4 linked regions of the Homo sapiens genome follow. The protein of the gene in region 1 purifies or fractionates together with the protein of each later gene. This does not show direct contact. Each region holds a gene or a part of one and is shown in the gene's direction. Other genes may lie near its edges.

Evidence for each region. The genes of interacting proteins can lie anywhere in the genome.
Region 2: the proteins of CFH (region 1) and SH3D19 purify together in Homo sapiens (affinity purification with mass spectrometry, with the first as the bait; one large-scale study listed by BioGRID). This does not show direct contact.
Region 3: the proteins of CFH (region 1) and LRSAM1 purify together in Homo sapiens (affinity purification with mass spectrometry, with the first as the bait; one large-scale study listed by BioGRID). This does not show direct contact.
Region 4: the proteins of CFH (region 1) and BMP1 purify together in Homo sapiens (affinity purification with mass spectrometry, with the first as the bait; one large-scale study listed by BioGRID). This does not show direct contact.

The regions. Positions count from the first base shown.
Region 1 is NC_000001.11:196,724,281-196,729,708, forward strand, and holds part of CFH (complement factor H isoform a precursor), read left to right. Parts: intron 1-840; coding exon 841-1,017; intron 1,018-2,189; coding exon 2,190-2,372; intron 2,373-2,480; coding exon 2,481-2,660; intron 2,661-4,065; coding exon 4,066-4,242; intron 4,243-5,428. UniProt on the Homo sapiens protein: Glycoprotein that plays an essential role in maintaining a well-balanced immune response by modulating complement activation.
Region 2 is NC_000004.12:151,172,106-151,175,605, reverse strand, and holds part of SH3D19 (SH3 domain-containing protein 19), read left to right. Parts: coding exon 1-936; intron 937-1,494; exon of another isoform or gene 1,495-3,500. UniProt on the Homo sapiens protein: May play a role in regulating A disintegrin and metalloproteases (ADAMs) in the signaling of EGFR-ligand shedding. May be involved in suppression of Ras-induced cellular transformation and Ras-mediated activation of ELK1.
Region 3 is NC_000009.12:127,454,510-127,458,009, forward strand, and holds part of LRSAM1 (E3 ubiquitin-protein ligase LRSAM1), read left to right. Parts: 5' UTR 1-18; coding exon 19-90; intron 91-488; coding exon 489-545; intron 546-1,066; coding exon 1,067-1,111; intron 1,112-2,806; coding exon 2,807-2,884; intron 2,885-3,500.
Region 4 is NC_000008.11:22,178,872-22,182,371, forward strand, and holds part of BMP1 (bone morphogenetic protein 1 isoform 3 precursor), read left to right. Parts: intron 1-833; coding exon 834-958; intron 959-1,496; coding exon 1,497-1,612; intron 1,613-3,500. UniProt on the Homo sapiens protein: Metalloprotease that plays key roles in regulating the formation of the extracellular matrix (ECM) via processing of various precursor proteins into mature functional enzymes or structural proteins.

The DNA.
Region 1 (5,428 bases):
GACAGAGGGCTGAGGTTCCTGGGTAGGAAACAGTCCCCACATGAGTGCACTGCAGGCATGAAACCTACCACTGCAGCTCAGGCCCAAGGGGAAGGCAGATGACCCTATTCAACTAGTAGTTTGGTGTAATGCCCTCAAGAAGTTCCCAAATCTCCACTCACACCAGTGTGTGTGTTCACGAAGACAGAAGAGCTCTCTGATGGCTTGGATCCACACGGTGAGCTGCAGGGAGCCCAGAAGACTCCTACCTACACTTTCTATGAGGTCCCACAGGGTCCTAGTCAACCTTTGTCAGGCTCTTGCTTCTGTCTTTTTCCATGCTTTGGCTTCTCTCCATGGTTTCTCTATGACGCTCCTGCACCCTCTCTTAAATATTTTTCAAGTTATGATCATTTACCTGTAACTTTGGTTCTTCTTTCTGAGGAGAACTTGTGTCCAAACTCCTTAGTCAGTCATCTTGTTTTCAAAAAGCCCCAATTCTGGTCTATATGCACTTTTCTTTTTTAATATGAGAGAGTAATTTCATGTTTTGAGTAAAAAAAGTAATATTAAATTTCATTAATGTCAGTGATTAAAACTAGATTCATTGTAAATAAGTTGAATTTACAAATTAATTTTTAGAACAGATATATTTCAATACCATAACATTTATAATAAAGTTCCATTTCAATTTAGACAGCATATAAAACATAATATGTAGCATTCTTTACAGGGAAAAGGATTTATCTGATGCCCCTCTGTATGACCCAATATCAACCTCACTTTATTGTGGCATATGTAAAATTAACTTTGGCAATGATTAATTATATATTCTCATGAAATTATTTTACCTTTTTCAAGAAAGAGAATGCGAACTTCCTAAAATAGATGTACACTTAGTTCCTGATCGCAAGAAAGACCAGTATAAAGTTGGAGAGGTGTTGAAATTCTCCTGCAAACCAGGATTTACAATAGTTGGACCTAATTCCGTTCAGTGCTACCACTTTGGATTGTCTCCTGACCTCCCAATATGTAAAGGTGAATGCTTATCTTACAATTGCTGAAATAAGAATTAGAACTTTGAATACCAACTTTTTTCTTATTAATTTTGTTTGGGCTCCCATTGCCTGTAATCTAATGAATTAAGTCAAATATTTGCCTGTGAAGGACATGTATTGAGTACTGAATACCTGAGATTCAGTCACTTAAGTTAATCTCCACTGTTTCTTGAACGATGTGCTGGAAGTATTCCCAGACACACAGGTGTTGTCGGTCTTAGTCTACTTTAGGTTTATGTTTCTATAAAGGAATAACTGAGTCTGGATGATTTGTAAAAATGTTTTATTTGGCTCACTATACTCATGACTATAAAATTCAAGATCGGGCATCTGCATTCAGTGAGAGCCACAGAATGCTGGTAGAAAGGGAAGAGGAGCCACTGTGTCCAGAGAACACATGATGAGAGAGGAAGCAAGAGAGAGAGCAGGGCAGTGACAGGCTCTTTTTAAGAACCAGCTCTTCCAGGAGCTAATAGAGTGAGAACTCACCCTGAGAGGGGGCATTCATCTGTTCATGAGAGATCCATACCCATGATCCAAACATCTCCCATTAGACCCCACCTGAAACACTGGGGATGAAGTTTCAACATGGGGTTGGAGGTGACAAACATTTAAACCATACTAGTGGCTGACAATGGAGGGATTTCTTTGTTAATTTTCATTTTGCTTGAAATGTCAACATCCATTCTGGACATTTTATATAGTGTGGGCTGCAACTTAAGTTTCACCGGGTGTGTCTAAACAATATTTAAGCAGCTTATATTCAATTCAGTTGCTTGTATTGATTAGTCAAACTTTATGTTGATCAAATGCTTGCCTCAGTTATGATATTTTTCCAAAATGTTATGATAAAATGTTTCCATGAAATGTAAAAATTAACATGATTTTCATAACCACATTTGCTAATTGGTTTTCTTGCATCTTTAAGATATCTAGAAGTCTGAGCATATTTTAACATTTTAATATACCTTCAATATGACAATTTAGTATAAGTAATACAATATGAACACCATTCTTGATTGTTTAGGATGCTATAATAAGTTACATAATGAAGAATACATGAATAAAAGAAGAAAATCTTTCCATTTTACTGAATTTTTATATTGTAAAACAGACAATTTAACCATTATTTACATAGTATTTCTACTATAGAGCAAGTACAATCATGTGGTCCACCTCCTGAACTCCTCAATGGGAATGTTAAGGAAAAAACGAAAGAAGAATATGGACACAGTGAAGTGGTGGAATATTATTGCAATCCTAGATTTCTAATGAAGGGACCTAATAAAATTCAATGTGTTGATGGAGAGTGGACAACTTTACCAGTGTGTATTGGTAATGTATAAAATATTAATATTTAAACTTGTCAAAACTTTTGTATTTTGTATCTAAAACACATACATCATGTTTTCACAATAAACTTTTTTTGTAAAATTTACATAGTGGAGGAGAGTACCTGTGGAGATATACCTGAACTTGAACATGGCTGGGCCCAGCTTTCTTCCCCTCCTTATTACTATGGAGATTCAGTGGAATTCAATTGCTCAGAATCATTTACAATGATTGGACACAGATCAATTACGTGTATTCATGGAGTATGGACCCAACTTCCCCAGTGTGTGGGTGAGAATACCCTTCTTAAATCAACATTTAACAAAGTTTAATATTTTTATTGTAACAACAATAATTGCAACTATATTTTTGAAATTTACAGATATGCCTCAACATTTCCAGTCTTCAATATGAGACCAATCTTTTGCATATTGCTTATAATTCAATATGTGTCTAGAAAGAAAAAATAAAGCTAGTAATATAATTTTATGAATCTTTCTGCGTCTGATAACAGTATTGTTTATATTTAAAAGTGTGAAGCAACATTTTACTTACAAAAATTGTCATGTGAGGCCAGGGTGGTTGCTCACGCCTATAACCTCAACACTTCAGGAGGCCAAGGCAAGAAGATTGCTTGAGGCCAGGAGGTAGACACTAGTGTGGGCAATATAGCAAAAGCCCATCTCTATAAAAAAAATTTTGTAATTAGTTAAGGTGTGGTGGTGCATGCCTGTAATCCAGCTACTTGGGAGGCTGAGGAGGAATGATTGCTTAAGGCCAGGAATTCGAGATTGCAGTGAGCTCTATTGTGCATTCCAGCCTGGGCAACAGAGTAAGACTCTTTCTTTAAAAAACAAAAATATTAAAAAATTATCATATGATTAAATATGAGTACTAATTACTGAGAAATTATAACAGTTTTATATAAAATATAAATATTATTGTTATTGTATGGTATTCCTTTTTAGGCACTGAGAAGCAAAGAAACAAAGTTGACAAAATACCTACTTACTACTCTCCCATAGGATTCTTTTCTCTCTTAAAGCTTCCAAAAGTGATAATTTTTCAGTTTGTTCCATATCAGCCAAAATAAGTGAATGTGCTGCAGGGTTGGTGGGCCACAGGCCCTCTACATCAGTGGTATAGCTGAGTGGCATGAGGTAGTCAGGGACTGAGTCAGGACGTAAATCTCATTGACGGACTTCACACTGTAAATCTCATGTCTTGATCAGCAAGAAGGCAAGGTGATTCACTTACAGTGTGACTTGAGATGTACAATCTTTAAAATCATTTTGCCTCTTTGATGACTAACCGGGAGGATCTTGGGGACCCTCATTCACTTTTCTCTAAACTGAGATTTTTCCTAAAGTTTTCCTGGGTCCTGAATTCTAAGAGTCCTAATGTCCAATCATACTTATTTATCCAATGAAATATCCAATGATATTTTGTATTTCCCAAAGAATAAAATGTCTTCTGATAGGTATCTCTAACATTTCAGCGACAGAATACAGGGCTTATATTTTGACATAATAGCATTTTGATGCAATGTGATCAGGAATAACTTGGTTGGTGAAATTTATAATGATTAAGTCATAATTTTACCATGCTAATACTATTTACTTTATAACTATTTTTATGTAATAGTTGGTTTGATTCCTATCATTTGAATTTTCATAAAAATATATTTATTTTATAGCAATAGATAAACTTAAGAAGTGCAAATCATCAAATTTAATTATACTTGAGGAACATTTAAAAAACAAGAAGGAATTCGATCATAATTCTAACATAAGGTACAGATGTAGAGGAAAAGAAGGATGGATACACACAGTCTGCATAAATGGAAGATGGGATCCAGAAGTGAACTGCTCAAGTAAGCTCTTATTTTGTTTTCAGAAATGTATTCTATTTCTCATTTGGAAAAGTAATAGGTATGTGTGTCTTTTAAAAACTTTAGCTATTTATTATTACAAATGCTACTGAATAAGGCAGGTAAACTAGAAACTAATGAAAACACTGTTCCTAATATTAACTGTGCCCTGTGAATTAGTTACCTTTAGTATAAACACACACACACACACACGCACACACACACACACACACACACACATAAACCAGGCACTACATGTCATCATTACTGTTGGAGGACCAGTGCTTCTCATTCCTTTTCTTGTCAACAAATGTTCCTGTGCCTATACCTCTGTCTATGCCAATAACTACTATGTATCTGTTTGTATATGTCTGTATGCATGTATGTATGTATCTATATCTATTTCTGTTGATTCATTTATTTAATCTATCTCTCTGTCTATTCATCTACCTGTTCATCTACCTAATCATCTATTTATCTATTAATTTATTGTTCATCTATCTTGAAAAGTTAGTCATATTGACACATACAGTTTCACTTGAATAGTGTAGGTTTTATTCCAGTCTTCTCATATTTTATATCTGTATTTTGCTATCCAATTGTGGGTTTCCTTGCCTCACTAACTTCAATATTTTTACCAATGTCTGCCAGTCTAGGATATACAGAAAGCATTGACAACCAATACAAAAACTAATCTGCTATCAACATTTCAATATGTTTAGAGTCCTTAAAGAAGCAAATAATATATATATGCAGTGAAGTGTACATGTTCTACAGTTTTTTCTTGAAGTTTTATAGTTTTAGCCATTCTATATAGATTTATTAAAATGATCGTATAGTTATCGTCCTTTCTGTTAATGGGATGCATCACCTTTACTAATTTGCCTATGTTAAACGACCTTTACATTTCTTGGATTAAACCCATTTGATCATAGTGAATGATCTTTTTAATGTGCTGTAGGATTTGTTTTCCTAGTATAGTGTTGAGGGGTTTTGTACCTATGTTCATCAGGGGATTTTGCCTGTAGTTTTCTTTTTGCGTTGTGTCCTTGTCTGGTTTTGGTTCCAGAGTAATGTTGGGCCACTAGAATGAGTTAGAAAAATGATCTCCTCATCAAATTTTTGGAGTCGTTTTAGAAGAATTGGTATTAGTCCTTTCTAAAATGTTGTTATAATTCAGCAATGAAGC
Region 2 (3,500 bases), on another chromosome or scaffold:
TGGCACCTTTAATCGTCTTTGATATTTCTGAAGAACCGAATTGTCCAGAAAACCCCAGTGCTACAAGATGTCCAGTGCCAAAACCAAGATCAAAAAGCAACCTCAGACCAATACCCAGAGATTCTCACATTAAAGAGCAAAGTCAACAGAAAATCAGCCCAGCAGCCGTAGGAGAGGAGTCATCCCCAGGCCGGCCCCAGTCTCTGCTGGACAACGCTAGCACCTCAGACAGTCAGGCAGTGATGAACATTATGAACACAGAACAAAGCCAAAATAGTATTGTTTCCAGAATTAAAGTGTTTGAGGGTCAGACAAACATAGAAACCTCAGGACTGCCCAAGAAACCAGAAATTACTCCACGTTCACTTCCTCCAAAGCCTACTGTTTCCTCAGGGAAACCTTCTGTAGCTCCCAAACCAGCTGCTAACAGAGCTTCTGGAGAGTGGGACTCTGGGACTGAGAACAGACTCAAGGTGACCTCCAAGGAAGGACTCACCCCATACCCTCCCCTGCAAGAAGCGGGAAGCATCCCAGTAACCAAACCTGAATTGCCAAAGAAACCAAACCCTGGCCTTATACGAAGTGTTAATCCTGAGATTCCGGGAAGAGGGCCCCTGGCTGAGAGCTCTGATAGTGGGAAGAAAGTGCCAACTCCTGCCCCGCGGCCTTTGCTGCTGAAGAAATCTGTTTCCTCAGAAAACCCCACCTACCCTTCAGCTCCACTGAAACCTGTCACTGTTCCTCCCCGACTCGCAGGGGCATCACAAGCCAAAGCATACAAGTCACTGGGAGAAGGGCCCCCAGCCAACCCCCCAGTTCCAGTTCTGCAGAGCAAGCCCTTGGTGGACATCGATCTCATCAGCTTTGATGATGATGTTTTGCCCACCCCATCGGGGAACCTGGCTGAAGAATCTGTTGGTTCAGAGATGGTTCTAGGTGAGTGAAAAATCAGCAGTGGAGGGGAATCTAAACTCATGATAGGGTATTTTAAATGGCACTTGCTGTTTTAGTTTCTGGTACATAAGTTATTGAGGTGTGTGTATACAAGTATGTGCACATGCATGTGTGTGTATAGAAACAGAGGAATGAACAGACAGATCAAGAAACATGGGAGCTATGTGGGGAATGGAGACAGGGAGGGAAGGGAAAATATGGGATGGGGGTAATGGAGTCAGAAATGGGGAGACACATGCATCGATTACTATTATATGAGCCAGAAGTAAGCAGACTGGGGCTAGGAGCTAAACTATAATAGGTTGTGGGGCTGGCTCCCCTTACTCTTGGCAGATAGAAGTTCAGACTTCACATTGAAAGGATCCAGGGAGGTTATGGAACATGTAGAAGGATGCAGAGGAAGCTTCTCTTAGATGGGAAGTCATGCAGTGGCCCCAGAGGGGCTCCTCAGATGAAATGGGCCTCAGCTGGGAGTGCTGGGAGAGGGGCCAGCTCCAGGGGAGGACTCGAAAATGTACGGAATGAGGACCCAGCCACATGTTGCAAAGTTGTTCCTTTAATCTTCACAGAACATCTTCCCTTGAGAGTGAAAAGTTTTGTAAATAAAATACAACAGATACAAGTTAGCTGCCAAGATCAGTACAATTAAATATCCCAGAAGGCAGAGAGTATGTTTTCTTTCCTCTAACTGTTCCGTTGGAGAGTGTGATGGTAAAGCTTATCTTTGATTTGTCAAACTAAGCTGCTCTACTTGTCATTGATAAGATTTCTTTTACTGCTGTTGACTTATTTGGGTGGAATTTGTGAACATATAAACTTAATAGAATTTTCAAAAGCTTAACTGTCACTGTATAAATGTTTAACATGCATCAAAATAGTACAGGCTCTGTGATTTCACAGCCACATTCTGCATAGCACAGGTGTGTTTAAAATGAAAACAAACATACACATTATTAAATATTCATCATGCACAGAACATTGTAACTGACACACAACATTTTAGCGTATAAACTAAAAGACATACATGGCTTTTGTCCATAAAGGGTGGAAGGAAAAACATTTGAATATATTAAGCTTCTGCAGTGTACCTAATGCTCTGCTAAATACTGAGACATACATTATTTTATTTAATAATTGCAACAACCGTCTGTGAGTTATCATTGGCCTAAGTTTGCAAATGAAGACAGTGAGACTGAGAGAGATCTATGGATCACTTGCCCAGTGTCATAAAACAATTGTTCAAGTCAGGATTCAAACTTAGTGTTTTTATTCTAAGCCTAGTTTATTTTTCACTGTATAATGTTGCTACCCAATATTTTCATGAATCCTTAACCAGGCAACACTTTAAAAACTTTTCAAGTCTTTGATAATACCATTTTCTTATATAAACCTTTTTGGTATTAACAAGATTCAGAGAAGGACAGGGATAGATAAACCCAACAGCAGCAAGCTAAAGAAATATTACCTTTTGTAGAACTTGCTAGTTTCTATGGGGATGGCAACTCAACTAATAATTGCTGAGAATTTATTTTGTATCATCTAGCAGATAATTATAGTCATCTTCAAAAAGGAAGGTCAACAATATACTTTAAGCATGAATACAGTCTCATGCTTCATACTCAGCCTTTTCCATTTCTTGATTTCTACCACTTCATTGAACAACATTTAATTATTGGGGCGTCTTTTAGCAAAGTGTGTAATTTGCTTGTGCTATCTGACTTTAACCATTGCTCTGGACTATGGGGTTATACTGAGCTGAATACTATCTTCTTTCTAAATCTTCTTTCTTCCTATATTTTGCAACTCACTATTGACACCATCACACACACACCAGCCTTTCCTGGAGAAACCCAGAGATCATCCTTGAGTCTTCTCACCGTGTCACACAGTGGCTAGCTGTTCAGATTTGGAGTCTGCCAGGGTCTACCATATTTGTTACATGACCTTGGGCAATTTTCTTAACCTCACAGTGCCTCTGTTTCCTCATTTGTTTAGACGTAATACTACTCCTCACCTAGGGTATTGCAAGGGTTAAATGTGATTATGCAGGAAAGCCCTATGATCATTAATTAGTAGTTATTATTGTTACTTCTCTGCCTTCACATCTAATTAGTTACCAACTCCTGCTGGTTTTACCTTCCAAATAGTTCTTGACTCTGCCTCTCCTTTTCATCCTTCCCTCTTCTGCCCCACTTTAGGCCTTTACACTCTGATGACTGCAGTGGCCTCCCAAATTGAGCCCACTCAGACAATCCTATCACAATCCATACTGTGGCTACCTAGGGGGAGTTTCTAGAATGCACACTGGTGCTTTTTGCCTCCCTACTTATGCCCTCCAAAGGCCTTCAGGATCACCTCTGAATGCCTTGACCTGTGGAGGGATTTTTGTTTGCTTTTTGATTTGGGGCTTTGTGACTTTTTGGTGGTATTTTGGTAGCATTGTCATTGTAAATAAAGGTTTATGGTCCTGGGAAACCTTGCCTAATCATCCAGACACCAGGCAGAAACTGGGAGAGGAACACAGGAGAAAGAAGAGAAACTTACAA
Region 3 (3,500 bases), on another chromosome or scaffold:
CTCTGGGAAAAGGGAAGGATGCCGCTCTTCTTCCGGAAGCGGAAACCCAGTGAGGAGGCTCGGAAACGCCTGGAGTACCAGATGTGTTTGGTGAGGGAAAGTGGGTTTCCTCTAACTCTATCCCATCTCCTCCTCGGTCCCCATGGAGTAGGCCTCCGCACTGCCCCCAACAAGCCGTGCTCCTTCCCATCTGCCTCCCCCACCCACAGAAGAAATATTTGACTTAGACCCAACAGATGAGGCCCCCTGCCAAGGGTGCTTCTCCCCTGTAGACTGAGCGCACTGTCATTGCTTTTCAGTTCCTCATCCCTCTGGGCCTCAAGCTCTGGGAAAGCAGGGGTCATTGGTTCACCTGCCAAATGGACCAGTGGAACCAGATAGTGTCTATGGTCCTTTGCAGCTGCTTACATTTATGTTCTTTGCCTGGCTTGTCCACTCTGCAAAGGTGTTTTGTCTTAATACTTTTTAAAAATTCTTTTTATCCTTAGGCAAAAGAAGCTGGGGCAGATGACATTCTCGACATCTCTAAATGTGAGCTCTCAGAGGTAAACTGAGGATAGTGTTGGGCTGTGAATTGGATCTGTCCCGTTTTCTTGGATCTTGTGTCCCTAGGAAAGACAGAGGTGGACTGGGGCTTTAGAAAGGCCAGAAGCTCTAGTCACGAGATGTTTCCTTAGATTTTGTTCTCGTCCAAAATAATTGAAGATGATCCTTTGGCCTCAATATAACGTAGTCTCCAAGAGTCAAGGAGTCTAGGTAGAAAATGTACCCATAGACTCCTACATTGCTGGAAGGGCCTGGCATTCTCCAGCCCCTGAAGGGGTTCACAATGGGGACAGGGTGGGTGGGGCAGGGCAGTCTCCTGCCAGCTGACCGAGGGAAGGGCTGGCCACATCCCCAACACCACTGCTTGCCAGCCTTGCCCCTGGGCTCAGCACTGCCACCTGCTGTGGCGTTTTGCCCTTGTTCACCTCCTGCCTGTCTCTTCCTCACGTGAATGCCACTCAGAGAACAAGCTAAAAACTGGCAGGAGGGGAGACACTTACTCTTCTTTATCTTATCTTAGATTCCATTTGGAGCTTTTGCAACATGCAAAGTTCTGCAGAAGAAGGTAAGATGGAGCTTCATCTTCAGAGACTTTCTTGTTGCATGTCTGCTTGTTTGAACCCACAAGGGACTTTGAGGAGCTGTCTTCCCGGCGTAGACACCTCCTTTCTCTCTGCTTCTTATGCTCTTGGCCTGCAGCAGGTGTTTTCACAGATAGGAGAGTAGGCTTTGGGGTTGGACCTTCCTGTGTCACATTCTAACTCTGCCCTCACTGGCTTCATGACTTGGGCAACTTCCTTAAACTCTTACTTCTCAGTTTCTTCCCCTGTGAAATGAAGACATTCATAGTTCTCCTTCCTGAGGTATTGTGAGAATTAAATGAGTGGTAGATAGCTAGATAGAGATAGAAATATACTGAGTGTACATGCCTACCACGTAGTAAAGGCTTATGAACCCCGGTGTTAGTAATAATAGAAACTCACGCCTTTTATTCTGGTCACCCAGGGGAGATTCAGAGGGGAGTGAATGATTTTTCAGCAGAGCATTGCAGCTTTGAATGCAGATGGGTAGAAGCGCTCTAAGTGAAGTATCTAAATGAGAATATGCAAAAAAAAAAAAAAAAAAAAGTGTTCCCTGCCAACAGAGTAGTGAGCTCCTTGGCGCTGGAAGTTTTGTTTGTTTTTTTTTTTTTTTGAAGACGGACGCTCTGCTCTGTCACCCAGGCTGGAGTGCAGTGGTGCAATCTCAGCTCACTGAAACCTCCGCCTCCTGGGTTCAAGCAATTCTCCTGCCTCAGCCTCCTGAGTAGCTGGGATTATAGGCGCCCACCACCATGCCCAACTAATTTTTGTATTTTTAGAGATGAGGTTTTGCCATGTTGGCCAGGCTGGTCTCGAACTCCTGACCTCAAGTGATCCACCTGCCTTAGCCTGCCAAAGTGCTGGGATTACAGGTGTGAGCCACCACGCCCAGTCTGTGCTGGAAGTGTTGGGCCGCAGTCAATGCCTAAGAAAAATGCAGTAGATTGGCCGGGTGCGGTGGCTCATGCCTGTAATCCCAGCACTTCGGGAGGCCGAGGTGGGCAGATCACGAGGTCAGGAGATCAAGACCATCCTGGCTACCATGGTGAAACCCGGTCTCTACCAAAAATAAAAAAAAAATCAGCTGGGTGTGGTGGCATGCGCCTGTAGTCCCAGCTACTCGGGAGGGCGAGACAGGAGAATTGCTTGAACCTGGGAGGCGGAGGTTGCAGTGAGCTGAGATCACACCACTGCACTCCAGCTTGGGCGACAGAGCAAGAGTTGGTCTCAAAAAAAAAAAAAAAGAAAAGGAAAAATAGCAGTAGATGACCTGGACTGAGCCCTGGCCCCTCTGCCAGCCCTGGAAGTTTTGCGCATGAGCTTTTATTTAACATCATGGCAGCCCTGGGAGGCAAGCACTTTATTATTCTCTATTTTCCACGTGAAGACGCTGGTGCTGGGAAGGTTATGATCAGGATGGCTGCAGGGGGATCCCTTCTCAGATGGAAGGAAGATGTAGACCTCTAAGGTCTCTTTCACCCTTGAAGATCCAGGTTTTAAGGAAGGGCATTAGATTCCCCATTGGGAGAGTTCATGATACTGACCCGCATCCCCGTGGTGGTGTCTGGGAGAGCAAGATGGTGGGGCGTGGCACGGCGCTGGGCTGGCTCCCACGCCCTTAGCCTGCCCTGCCTGCTGCTCTTCCTCAGCCCAGCATGGCCGCACATCTCTCCACACAGGTGCTGATCGTCCACACGAATCACCTCACTTCCCTGCTTCCCAAATCCTGCAGCCTCCTGAGTCTGGCAACCATCAAGGTACTGGGCCCTCCTCCCAGGCAGCTGGGGCTCTGCATGGGGTTCCACGCGGCAGCTGAGCGCCTGCTCCTTTTGGGCTGCCTCTTGCATGTCAGAGGGGCCCAATCTACCAGTCAGTCTGGGATTTGATCAGTATGGTTTACTGGATACTTCTGTGGGCTGTGTGTGGGTTAGGGTGACAAAGATGACCAGCCACAGGCCCTGTCCCTGGGGAGTTTACATGCCAGGAGGAAAGCCAAGTGACAGCCTCATGGCGAGTCAGCTAGCAGAGGGCGAGGAGACTGATGGTCCCAGGCAAGAAGGAAGAGGAGGGACGCGCAGGTGATCTGGAAGGACTCCCTGCTGACTGTGAGCTCCTCCCCGGATGGGCTGGGAGGCATTCACAACATGTGGGAGGTGTGAGCCCAGGGTTGTTATGCGCAGACCTGAGCTTGGGAGAGTGATATGCACCTTCAGAGGAGGCCGGCAGCACAGGTGTCAGCCCAGCAGCACAGGCCCAATCTGTTATACTATATTGTTTAGGGAATAATGACAAGAGAAAAGCCTGTATGTGTTCACTACAGATGCTTTCTTTCTTTTTTTTTTTTTTAATATTTTGCACCTGAGTTTGGTTGAA
Region 4 (3,500 bases), on another chromosome or scaffold:
CTGCCCCCTCTTCTCAGTGCTTCTACCCGATCTGCTCTTCCTGCCTGCAGACCTGCAGGAACAGAGACCAAGGAAGGGTGGTGAGGTCATTCTGCCCCCCACACCCACAGACCCGGCCTTACATTTCCCACCACATCCCACCCCACCCCCTGCTGCGATCCACCCAGCTGGGTGTGAGTCAGGGGCCCTGGGGAGGTGGAGGGCTGCCTGCCTCCCCTTCACTCTGCTCCTCCCAGTGCAAACACCCAGGATTCAGCAGGGAGGAATGGCCAGGACAGGAGACACTGATAGATTGGGAGCTGGTGGGGCTGTCCCCGGGGCTTGGTCTGGCTGCAGTGGAATCTGCCTTTGGCCTTGTTCCAGGTGCTTTCAGATGCAGCCTGTGCCAGCAGGGTGAGGAGCTGGCCTGGGGAGTCCTGGGAGAAGTTTAGTTAGGGCTGGAGCAGCATGAGGGGCTGCAGAAGCAGGGGCCCAGTGGGGCTGGAGAGAGATGACCCGCTAGGGGCCTGTAGCTTTCCTGGGGCTGGGAGTTGTGGCCAGCCTGAGCTGGGAGCACCAGTGGGTCCAAGGGCACCCTGGACCTGCATCCCTGACCTCCCAAAGTGTTCCTGGGGCTCCCCCGACTCCTGTGGTGTGGCTGCCACGGAGCAGGGTGGCTGCTGGTCAGTGGGTAGCATAATGACAGGGTGAGACGACTCCACCCGGCCCTGACCCTGCTGAGGAATGTCTGAGCTCCAGCAGGGTCGTGACTTGTGGGTACAGATGGGCATGCCACCCACTCCCTGCCCACTGTCCATGAGACGCTCACCCTTACTTTTCTCCCTCTTCTTCAGGGGCATCTTCCTGGATACCATTGTCCCCAAGTATGAGGTGAACGGGGTGAAACCTCCCATTGGCCAAAGGACACGGCTCAGCAAGGGGGACATTGCCCAAGCCCGCAAGCTTTACAAGTGCCCAGGTCAGGGCAGAGAAGGGATGGGTGAGGGCGTGGAGGGCAGGGCCTGAGGGAGGCAGAGGCCAGGTGCCTGGTGCCACCAAGAAGGCTTAGGCTGCAAGTCTTAGAGAATGGTGTGGCGGGGGAGGGGACCCCATAGGAGGGGCAGTGTCCAAGTGAAGGAGGCCGCTGGGGGTAGGCTCAGGTGGGTGGTCAGAAGCCGAGCCGCCACCTTCTGAGGGTCTGTAGGGGCGGAAGTGGGGAGAACAGCAATCCTAGGAGAGGGAGGTGGCACGGAGCCCCACCAAGGGAGCTTGACCTTAGCTCTGGAACCCATATTGCCTTCACAAACAGGGCAGCACTGGGCTGGGAGGTAGGATGGCGTGTGCTATATGTGAGGTAGGGGGGTGGATCTTATAGGGGCAGGACCATTGCAGACACCCTCCCACTCCTCAGGCATTCTCCCCTCCCCCAGAGGATGCCAAGGTTCAGGGGTGGGTGAGCCAGAAGATGGGGGGATTTGGCGCCTGCAGCCCTGCCCTGTCATTTCCTTTCCTCACAGCCTGTGGAGAGACCCTGCAAGACAGCACAGGCAACTTCTCCTCCCCTGAATACCCCAATGGCTACTCTGCTCACATGCACTGCGTGTGGCGCATCTCTGTCACACCCGGGGAGAAGGTACGTGTGGGCTCAGCCTCTGAGCCTCCCCCTCCCCTGCGGGTCCCCATACCTCAGGGACTTCTCCCACAGTGGGGGTCAATATGGGTGCCAGCGACCTACCTGGCTACCGTAAATGTATCAAGTCCAGAGCGCTGATGGAGCACGGCTGTAGGAAGGGGCTCCTGGCATTCACCGCCTTCCCTGGCATCTCCCAATAATTATAAATTAGTGTTAATTTGCACATAGCACTTGCTGTGTAGGTCTATTTTGATTATCTAGTTCTTCTTGGGTGATTTTCCTACATCACCTCTTTTAGTTTTTACGGCTACCTCCACCTTTATTTTACAGATGAGGAAACTGAGGCACAGGGTGGTTAAGTAACTTGCCCAAGGTCACACAGCTAACAAGGACTGAGGTGGGACTGGAGCTCTTCTCAGGTCTGGGTTCCCTTGGATGAACTGCTCAGCCTGACGCTCAGCTCTCATCCGTCTCATCAGGGCTTGGGCCAGGGGCTCCTGAAGGGCTCTTCCCGATTCTGACAGGCTCTAGTCCTGGGAACAATTAAGGAATGATGCAGGCGCCTCCAGCAGGATGCTGCCTGGTGGGTCTCTCCTTCTCACCCATCCTTCCCCTTGCTCAGGCCAGGACCCTCCAGTCTTTGCTCTGTGGGCCTGATTTTCTGTGCCTGGCTCTCCACTGGCACTCTATTTCTCCTCCCTCTACCTGTCACCTGCTATATCAGTTCTGATCCATAGAGAAAGCTCAGCTCCACCTTCTGTCTTACCTTGTGGGGAAGTACCCAGTTCTCATACTTGCTGCCACGTGGGGCTGGCTTCGGGCATACTACGGGATCGGGTCAGAGCTGTCTCCATCTTCACAGTCTAGCTCGGATGTGACCTCCTTCAGGAAGCCTTCCCTGCTCGTTACTAATTGGTGGCAAGTAGGGTGGACACCGAGTGTGGGGAGGGCCCCCGAGCCTGTCCGGTCAGGTTTCCCACTGCATGGTTGATTAGCCCTGTTTGAATACCTAAGGTGATGAGAGGCTCACTACTTTTCAGAATAATTCATTCTGTTCTCTAGCCAGCTCTTTTTTTTTTTTTTTCTTGAGACAGAATCTCACTTTTTCACCCAAGGTGGAGTGCAGTGGCGCGATCTCAGCTCACTGCAACCTCTGCCGCCCAGGGTCAAGCGATACTCCCACCTCAGCCTCTGGAGTAGCTGGGACTGCAGATGTGCGCTACCATGCCCGGCAATTTTTTTTCTATTTTTGGTCGAGACAGGGTTTCGCCATGTTGCACAGGCTGGTCTCGAACTCCTGAGTTCAAGTGATCCTCCTGGCTCAGGCTTCCAAAGTGCTGGGATTACAGGCGTGAGCCACCGCATCTGGCCTGTAGCCAGCTCTTAATGTTACAACGTCTCTTCTTCTCCCTTAAGCCCCCCAGTTGCTCCAGTACTTTCCTCAAGAGCAATGCAGGATAACTCACTCCCTCTTTCCCATGTCAGCCCTCCTAATGTGGGGAGGCTACTCCCATCACTTCTTAGATCCATTCCCGGTCTTTTCACACAGACTCTGGACCTCCGCACCAACCCCAGACCTTCTGTGTCCATATTTTTATTGCTCCCAAGCTACAAGACTTTATTTTCCTTGATTGGGGCATGGTTCTTAATGTCATAGTGCAGCGTTGAGCTGGATTCAATTCTATTATTGATTGCATTGTTCATTTCGACATCTCAAGATCATTTTGAATCAGAATTTCACCATCCATCAGGTAGCCCTCCTCTTACCTCTGCCATGAGCTCCTTTGATAAGCATGACTTCTAGGTCTTCGTCCTGGCCTTTGATCAAAACATAGAACAGCACACAAACCAAAGAAGAACCAAGATTTCCCTCCAAATTGGCATTAAT